2 linked regions of the Homo sapiens genome follow. The protein of the gene in region 2 interacts with the protein of the main gene of each other region in a pairwise test. Each region holds a gene or a part of one and is shown on either strand. Other genes may lie near its edges.

Evidence for each region.
Region 1: the proteins of NUTM2F (region 2) and PRPF18 interact in a two-hybrid assay, tested with the Homo sapiens proteins (one large-scale study listed by BioGRID).

Annotation. Positions count from the first base shown.
Region 1 is NC_000010.11:13,603,078-13,607,464, reverse strand, and holds part of PRPF18 (pre-mRNA-splicing factor 18), read right to left. Parts: intron 1,835-4,387; coding exon 1,721-1,834; intron 1-1,720.
Region 2 is NC_000009.12:94,324,907-94,330,829, forward strand, and holds the start of NUTM2F (NUT family member 2F), read right to left. Parts: upstream 3,739-5,923; 5' UTR 3,718-3,738; coding exon 3,702-3,717; intron 1,029-3,701; coding exon 332-1,028; intron 1-331.

The sequences.
Region 1 (4,387 bases), on a different chromosome or scaffold from region 2:
CAGCCTGGGTGAGAGTGAGACCCTGTCTCAAAAAGCGTGTGTGTACACACACACAAACTTCTGTTCAGCAAAAGATTCAATTAAGAGAACAGGTAAGCCCTAAACTACAAGAAAATAGTCACAAAAAATATTCGTATATCTGACAAAGAACTTCTATCCAGAATATACAAAGAATTCCTATAATCCATTTACAAAAAGACAAGTTTATTTTTAAAATGAACAAAAAGCGCCTGTAATCCCAGCTACTTGAGAGGCTGAGGTGGGAGGACTGCTTAAGCCCAGGAGGTTGCAGCTGCCATGAGCCATGATTATGCCACCGCATTCCAGCGTAGGTGACGGAGTGAGACTCTGTGTCAAAAAAATAAATAAATAAGGAAAGAAAGACTTTAACAGACACTACACAAATGAACACAACTTTATGAAAAGATGCTCCTCATCTTTAGTCATCAGGTAATGTGATTAAAGCCGCAAAGAGCTACTACCAGACACAAAAGAGAATGGTTAAAATTAAAAAGACTAACAATACCACATGCTGGGGTTTGGAAATGACTGGCATTTCTTATGAAGTTAAGCATACATCTACTCTTATTATCCAGCAATTCTACTTCTAGGTATCTCCCCAAGAGACCTATTTATTTACCCAAGAAAAATAACATAGTTCCAAAAAAAGATCTGCATAAGAATGGTCATAGCAGTTTTATCCCTGTTTTTTTTTTTTTTTTTTTTTTTTTGAGAAGGAGTCTCACTCTGTCGCCAGGCTGGAGTGCAGTGGCACAATCTCAGCTCACTGCAACCTCCACCTCCCGGATTCAAGTGATTCTCTTGCCTCAGCCTCCCAAGTAGCTGGGAATACAGGCACACGCCACTACGCCCAGCTAATTTTTGTATTTTTAGTAGAGACGGGGTTTCACCATGTTGGCCAGGATGGTCTCGATCTCTTCACCTTGTGATCCACCTGCCTCAGCCTCCCAAAGTGCTGGGATTACAGGCTTGTGCCACCACGCCCAGCCAGCAGTTTTATTCCTAATAGCCCAAAGCTGGAAACAAATTTTGATATATTCATACAACTGAGTATCACTGGAAAATGAAAAGGAAACCAGTGGTATCTGCAATAACATGGATGAACCTAAAAACTGATATGCTGAGCGAAAGAAGCCAGACACACAATCTATGAGTCCATCTGTATGAAATACAAGAACAAGCAAAATTAATCCATGATGACAAAATTCAAATGGTGGCTGCCCAGGAAGGGATGAGGAGAAATATGAGGATAGGCTGAGAAGGGGTACTGGGGAAATTTCCTTTTTCTCTTTTTTTTCAACTTTTAAGTTCAGGGATACAGCTGCAGGATGACAGGTTTGTTACATAGGGAAACGTGTGTCGTGGTGGTTTACTTCACAGATCATCCCATCACCCAGCTATTGAGCCCAGCATCCATTCGCTATTCTTCCTGATGCTCTCAGGGAAATTTCTTTGGTGACGAAAATGTTCTATTTCTTTATAAGGGCAATGGTTATATGCTTGTATGTATTTGTCAAAATGCATTAAATGTTATACTTAAGATATGAGCTTTTCAAAAAATTAATGAAAACTTCCATTCAGCAGCAATAATCTGCTCACTTTACTTTTCCATTGTTGCCTACAATAATGCAATTAGTCAAACTCTATTCTAGTGAATGCAGTACAGTGGTATTTTTCTAGCTTTGTTCTGTCCTCTTACCTTGTTAACTTCTGGTGTGAGGATCTCTATTTTCCTTAAACGTTGAAAAGCATCATAATCAGTCTCTCCAAATAGTCTGATTGGTTCTCCTCTTTCTCTCAATCTTCTGATGACCTACAAAGTGAAACAGATACCCAGTAAATTTTTTTTTTTTTTTTTTTTTTTGAGACAGTCTCACTCTGTTGCCCAGGCTGGAGTGCAGTGGTGCGATCTCGGCTCACTGCAAGCTCCGCCTCCCAGGTTCAAGCGATTCTCCTGCCTCAGCCTCCCGAGTAGCTGGGACTACAGGCGCCCGCCACCACACCCAGCTAACTTTTGTATTTTTAGTAGAGATGGGGTTTCACCATGTTGGCCAGGATGGTCTCAGTCTCCTGCCCTTGTGATCCGCCTGCCTCGGGCTCCCAAAGTGCTGGGATTACAGGCGTGAGCTAATGTGCCCAGCTATTAAACTTTTGAGAGAGGAAAAAACTAAACATCTCAAAAACAATTTGTATATTGTACCTTAAAAGCCAAGCCTGGGTTTAATAAAAGCTAATTATCCAAATACATGCCTCTGTGTAAAGTATAAAATCCTTCAAATATTTTAGATCATTTCAATTAAGCTAAACAAAGATGTTTCCAAATCAAAGAGAAAATCAAGTACTTTAAAAATCTATTTTGACTCAAAAGTCACTGTTATTAATTTTATCACTGAACAGCTCCTAGAAAGTGGTCTGACCTATGACTCTACAATTCAAGTCTAAAGAAAGACCCTAATATAAACCACCTCTTTTACTGTGAGATTTTTAAAAAATTCTTTTTTGTAAGAAAAGGGGCATGTCTGTGGCCCTCATTTTACATAATTATAACTGTTCTTAGTCTTCTTTTAAAAACAATGGAAAGACAATAGTAATCCCTTATGTCAGCATATTTTTGGTGATCAAACACTTGTTTTGAAATGTAGATGAAAAAAGTAATCTGTTTATTCTTTTAATTTTCCATAAACAGATATACTGTGTTACCATCACACCTTAAGTAACCATAAAGTTTAGGTCGTTTAGCTCACTGCTTCGATAGGACCAATCTGTGTGGCAGGACACACAGGAAAAACACTAAGATGGGAGGGAATGACAGCATTTATAGAGAGAAGGAAAATCAAATCTGAAGCCAGCTGATAATTACCATAATGGACAGTCTGCATTGTAATACCACCATGAAACCAAAAACTTCTCCCTCAGAAAACAGGGAGTTATAATCTGCATATGCAGAGCTTTTAAGATGCTGAAAATCTATTTCCAAACTTGGGTGATGGTTACATGAATATTTATTTTATAATTATTCATATATGTGTAACAAACATATATTGCCCTAACATGGTTCATACACTTTATATACATGCTATGTATGTCATTTTAAAAAGGAAGAAAGAAACAGAAAACGTAATAAATACTAGTCCAAATTTTTTAAATAAAGCAATAATGAGAAACACCAAGAGCTTTACCTGGGAGCATAAATAGCATCACACCTAAAATCCATTGAGAGGGCTCCCAGTGGATTAACAGAAGTTTGAGATTAAAACAGAAATTTAAGAGGTCATCTAGTGCTATCTCCAATCAATGCAGAAATGACCTCACAAACACCCTTGTCAGATCCCTGGCTGACAAATGGCAGGAATCACATTTCTTCGTGAAACATCCCATCCCATTGTTTAGACAGAGATGTTTTGCTTCTCAAAACTGAAATCTACTTCCCCCAAACTTCTACCCATTTATCCCAGTTCCACTTTATGAAACTACAGAGAATATTCTGATTTTCCAAAATCAGAGCTACTTTCATTGGATTTTTAAAGATATCTCTAGTAATTCTTCTCTCCAGCCTCACTATTCTAAATTCCTTCACCTCATCTTCATATGATGGTTTCTAGAGTCAGTCACCATTCCCCTGAAAATTTCCTTTTATGCAATGTCCGTCATAAACATGTGGTAATGTAGAACTAAATAATAATACTACAAACATGTCAACTTGCGAGAAGTACAGAATACATAAGCCTTTGATCTAGACGCTTTATTTCTATGACTTACATTCAGTCCTATCCACAACTACAGAGGTCGAACAGGAAGAGACTACTGAGGACTCAAAGATGAAAGATGACCCTAAGTCAGTCAGTCAAAGACAAAAACAACCTCGACAGAAAAAAGAAAGGGAATGTGAGCTAGTTATTACTGTAAAACACTGCTTAAGATTGGGTGCTATAACTTAGGCCAAGTTGTGAGGAGTGCATAATATTTTTCTGGTTATCAGTTTAAATAGCTAACTCTCATCTACCTGGAATTATATAACAGTGGTTCTGTCTAAAGGCAAGGTAATAAACTACCTGACTTCGAAATTTCTTTTAGTGCAAGAATTCTATTATTCTAATTTTTTAAATAAAGAAGCTGAAATATACCACCACCACCACCACCACCACCACCTCCCCCAAAAAATGACACAGAGACTAAAGGGACATCAGTGAAAGAACTTAAGCCTCTGAGTCCTCTTTTACTATTTCAATAGACGCTCGCTGAGCAAAGGCAGGAACTTCTTCCCCATATCATGTCTACTACTTAACTGATGTACCACTATTAATCAGTAACAATGGTTTACTAATGATGGATCTCACAAAAAGAACAACTTCTTAAAACTACGTCG
Region 2 (5,923 bases):
AACCCGGGAGGCGGAGGTTGTGATGAGCTGAGATCGCGCCATTGCACTCCAGCCTGGGCAACAAGAGTGAAAGTCCATCTCAAAAAAAAAAAAAAAATTAAGGATTGGCTGGACTCACGGGACAGTGACAGGCAGTTGACGTGAGGCCCCTGACAGTCTGTCCTGAGCCGCAGCCAGATTAATGTTGCTGAAAACGTACCTTCCCATAGCACAACCCATCACCCTCACAACCGCCCTGCAAGCTCCCCTGAACAGTGTGACCTCCTGTCCATCCAGCAGCCTCTTTATGAGTGAGCTGCAGGACAAGCTCCGGCGCCCCGAGGACACTCACATGAGGAAGCAGGAAAGCGCTTCAGTGTCAGGACTCTGGGGAAGGTGCCTCCGGGCCAGGGGCTTGTAGTGCTGCCAGAGTCGGAAGTTCTCATAGACACTCTTGGGTTTACAGGAGTCGTCCGGCCGGGCCTTGGCCTGGGAGGGAGCCAGGCTGCCCTCTCCATGAGCCCCTTGTGGCCATGGCCTAGCGTTCCCTGGGGACACGATGGGGGCCACCTGGGCAGCCGGTGGTGGTGGTGGAAGAGGAAGGCCATGGGACCAGCCTCCCTCACAGGCCTGGGTGCCCCCAACCACCTGGGCAGAGGTAACGGGCACCCCAGGAGCAGCTGCCAGGAGTAGGGGAGGTGGACACATGACACCTCCACAGAGGGTGCCTGGAGCCTGCCAGACGAGGGGGGCCTGAGTTAGGATCAAGGTCTGTGCCTGAGGGGGCTTCACAGGCCCCACTTCTGTCCTCATCTGGACAAAGACGTTGGAAGCCCCGGCCCCACTCGGGCCGCGGCCATCCTGTCCTGCCACTAGAGGGGTGCTGGGGAAGGCAGAGAGCACCAGAGGGCCGGCTGGAGGAACCACTGCAGTCACGAGGGGCGGCCTGTGTGCTGGGCCGGGAGCGGGTGTGGCAAAGGGCAGAGCCGTGAACACAGACAGGGAGGTGCCAGGGTTCACGGTCACGCCGGGTCCCAGCACTGGGTATGCTGTGGAGACAAAGGAAAGAGGTGAATGAGCTGGCGTCTCCAGGTCCACACTAGTCACTGGGGAATCAGGGGAGTCCCAACAGCTGAGGGCATGTGACAGGGAAACTCTGCAGCTTGCAAGTGTCCCTGAGTGTGCATCAGATGCTCTGTTCCTCCACGGCAGAGTCGCTCCACTAGAGAGCCTGGCGCCAGTCACCAAGACTCCCTGACCCTTGTCTGCCAAGAAGAAACAGCCAAGCCTTTGCTGTCTCTGAGGGTCTCCCTCGGGTGTCCCTGGCAGACTGCACCAGCCTCACAGGCATCTCCCAAGCCATGGGTCAGGGATGAGTCTCTCGGTGGCTTGGTGGCTCTCAGTGTGCTCAGCAGCAGGTGAGGGGCCTACCCCAGGGCAGTGCTCGGCATTCAGAAGGCCGACAGGAAACCAGAAGTTTCCGAATATTATGGCCCCATCTCCTCTTCAGTCTTCCTTTCCCTGAAGCTCTTGTAAACCCCTTTCTTTCCTAGCTCAACACAACAAAAGAAAACCACTGGATAGGCCGGGCGTGCTGGTTCATGCCTGTCATCCCAGCGCTTTGGGAGGCCCAGGCGGGTGGATCACCTGAGGTCAGGAGTTGAAGACCAGTCTGGCCAACGTGGTGAAACCCCGTCTCTACTAAAATACAAAAATTAGCTGATGGTGCGTGCCTGTAATCCCAGCTACTCAGGAGGCTGAGACAGGAGAATTGCTTGAACCGAGGAGGCAGAGGCTGCAGTGAGCCGAGATCGTGCCACTTCATTCCAGCCCGGGTGACAGAGCGAGACTCCGTCTCAAAAAAAAAAAAAAAAAAAAAAAAGAAAACCACTGGATGGAAACTCACCCAAGCCAGTGCCCTAGGAACCCTGAAGATAACCCATAACACATCACGCCCAGCATGCAAGTGATTGTCCTGGCACCACCCACACAAGTGTTAAATAGGGGTCAGATTCAGGCCACCCATTCCTCAGTGCTCAGTGGTCCCAGCTGCCACTCAGGAAGCTCAGTTCCCAGGGAGCAGATCTGAGAAGCAGTGGTGGAGTCCCCTGAGATATTGTCATTGTGTAGCCAGCAACAGCTGCACATGACTAGAACACAGCCAGCAAATGGTGAGCAGCAGGGCTATCAGGGGAGGTGTCTAGGGATTTTCTTTTTTTTCTTTTTTTTTTTTTTTGAGACGGAGTCTCGCTCTGTCACCCAGGCTGGAGTGCAGTGGTGCGATCTCAGCTCACTGCAACCTCTGCCTCCCAGGTTCAAGCACTTCTCCTGCCTCAGCCTCCTGAGTAGCTGGGATTACAGGCGCCCGCCACCATGCCCAGCCAATTTTTGTATTTTTAGTAGAGACGGGGTTTCACCATATTGGTCAGGCTGGTCTTGAACTCCTGACCTCGTGATCCACATGCCTTGGTCTCCCAAAGTGCTGGGATTACAGGCGTGAGCCACCGCGCCCGGCCAGGGATTTTCACAGCTGCTAGTCATGTTACACTAAATAGTGGGACAGGGAGCCCATCTCTGGTCCTTCTCCTTTGAGCTCCCAGTAACTGAACATAGGGACCAACGAAGAACCAGGGGTTCTTGGGCCACAGGCCAGGTGAGGCAGAGTTGTCTGGAACTCATCCCTGTTCACTAGGACCTCATGCAGTCTCTAGCCAAGGGGAATAAGGGATACAGCACATGCACCTCATCAGTCAGGACACACATCCTAGTTTGAATAATAATAATAATAGGACTGTCTTCCTATTTGTGCGCTACTCTCCTTCCTCTACTGAAAAGGAAACCAGCCTTTTCAGAGCCTTCCACTGAGAACCAGCAAGAATCCACACCTGTCGCCCGTTCATGAGGTAGTATAAATGGAACAGGAGCAAATTCTTCACCTCCACAGTAACACAAAGTACAGAGGACGGGCCATGAGCTAGCTGACGAGAGGAAGTGGGTCTGAAGACCTGAGCTTCCACCAAAGGGCAAACAATTCAGAACAACTCAGGAAACCCAGGCCCTGTGTTGCCTGAACTTCCCCATTCTGCCCCCACCCCTGTTAAATCAAAGCCAACAGCTACCTGAACTGACGGAGAAGCCATCTCTGGGGAGGAAGCTGAGAGGCTCTGGGCTGTGGCAGTTGCAGTGGCCCCCAGCCTTGCCCACCCAGAGGCTGTCACTACATGCTCTGTCACAGCCAACCCACCCAACAGTTTTCTGGCTGAGACCACTTCTCCCCACTCCTCTCTAAGAACTAGAAAACTCCAGTCCAAATCCCTCTAAACACTATGGAAGGGCACCTTCCAGGTGCCTGAAGACACGGCACAGGGCTCAGGCTTGCCCGTCATTCTCCCTGGGCCACCAGCACAACACGATCCCACCACTCCCTACAAACACAATGACGTGACCTGTCCCCCTCTAGAAAGGATCAACCCATCCTCTCCATCCTTTCCACTACACGGTGTATTCCCCCAGGCATCTTGGTCCGCCTCTAAGGAGCCCTCCTCCCTAACCACAGACTCAGGGTGCCATGGCCATCCCCAGGTGTGATGTCCCTGGGGACATCCAGTGCTCCCTCCCTCAACATCAGCCCTATAAGCTGTCCCCAGGGACAGTTCAAATTTGAATTCCCAAGGAGTTGAGGCAAGGCAGACTCGGATAATGCCCCATCCCTACAGGCTCACCTCCATTTGAAGCCATCCCCTCAGGCTGGGCACTGACCACCACTGTCTGGCAGCTTCCGCAATGAAAAAAGTCAAGGGCAGGACCCAGAGAGTGACCTGACTCAGCAGATCCTCCTGAGTCCAAGTGGAGCAGGGATAATTTGCATATAAACAGGTTTGGAACACAGGACCCCAGACATTCTGCAGAGGGGGAGGGGCAGTGGGCAGCCGGGCTTGGCGGGGGTGGGGGACATTCTGTGAAGGGCTCTGGCCAGTAGGCAAGAACCTGAGGTTCCCTTGGTTCAGTTGGTTGCCATCCAACTGGATGGCAGCAACACAGACAGTGTGCGCCTCTTTAGGCAACTTTTAAATTGTCCTTCTGACTCACAGCAAAAGCTTCTACCTGATGTCCCCTTTACTTCCATTCTTTATCAACAGACCTACTTTTGTGCCAATCAACCCATGCTCCTTCCCACTTTGGCTCTTTCCCACTCTTGATGAATTTCAACAGGGGCCACACTTACTTAACAAAATTCAGAACACGTTTTCAGTCTGAGAAACACAGGGGTTCTTAGGAAGGCAAGGGGACTGAGTGTTTGAAATCAGAATGGCCTCAGCTGATCCAGGCTATTAGGTGGCTGTGTGCTCATCATTGTTTAGGAAGCAGTCCTTGTGCCCCCAGGTCATGTATGTTGCTGGAATCTGTCCACACCAGTAGGCCAGCCTTACTTCCCGTCCCCTTTCTTAGGAAGACTCAGTCCAGGAAAGAGAGGCTATGTGACCTACAGCACCGAGACCAGAAATCCTTTCATTTTGTTTCCCAGCATATTGTGCTGGTGTTAAATGTTTATTTTGTATCTTTTACATGATTTTAACTTAACTAAGCAATACTTTTGCATGGTTCCAAATTCAAATTGTGCACAGTGGAATAGACAATGACCAGCCTTCCTCCCACCTCTTTTCTCTGGCCACCACATTTTCTTTCCTGGAGGAAATAGGTGTTATCTGATTCTTTTTCATCTTTCCAGAGATATATTATGCAATCAAAAGCATAATGAAGCTATTTTTGCTGTCTAAAAATATTTTCAGTTTTTTGGGGGTAAAAATTAATATATTAATATGTTCTAGTATTCTTCTGATATTTGCAGTGACTGTATTTGTCCCAGTAATGTGGTTCCTCTCTTTATTTCTGTAGGTAAATTGCTAGAATGAGATGTTGGACTGTTTTTTAAAATTAAAAATACATGAAAGAACATAGTGGCCAGATTTAGCAAGTATGAATAAAGAATACCAAGTGGAATTTGAATTGAAGATAAACAGTGAATTAGTTTTTACTATAATTATGATCCATATGACATTTAGAGTACACTTTTACAAAAAAAAAAATCTGTCCTTTATCTGTGCTATTCACATTTCACTGGGATCTTGCACTTTATCTGGTAACTCTTCCCAAAAAAGTGTAACATATTAGGCAATTATTGTTAACTCTCCACTGTGAGAGTGCGAACTTGCAGTAAGGAGACTCAAGTGTGAATCTTGGCTGCACCACAAAAAGATTCTGCACCACAACCATTGCAGAAAACAATAGCAGGCTGATTTGATGAAAGGAAGTCAGGAGTAGCCATTATACCGTTCTCAGCTTCCAGGTTTAGTGGCAGTACGCACAGTTTTAAGGGACAGGAGAGCAGAACACCGTCTTTTTCTTTCCTAACATAAAGTGGCTTACAATTCCTAGAACTCTGGTTTCTCCAGGAGTTAGAAATCCACAACCCACGTCCATTCTGAGACAAGCAAGGATGCTAACCACCAATGTCCCATCCCCATTCTCATGCATCCCCTTGCATGTGTGAATCCTGGTTGGAGTCTCTCAGCTCGTTGCTGTCCTCATCTTCATCACAAGTGTCATCACATGTGGTTCTCAGCATGGGAATTATTGTAGCCTGTCTTTAAAAAAATCTTCATTCTCATTTTCACACAGAATTGCTGTTTATCAGCGTCAAAATGACAGGAAAGAGCACTCATGTTCTGTGTTGTGAACAAGGGGAGTGTTAGGAAACTGGTCAAAGGAGATGAGGAGTGAGTACTCAGAGCACAGCAAGAAAATCTGAGACACAGATGTCACTCCCTGCTGGGCAGCAGTCTTTTGCACTGATGGGTGGGTGTTGGGGAAGGGAAGAGGCCTTCAGCCGGACCAGTGCACACTGTGAACATTCACTGAAACACACCCTGTTGGCACTTAAGAA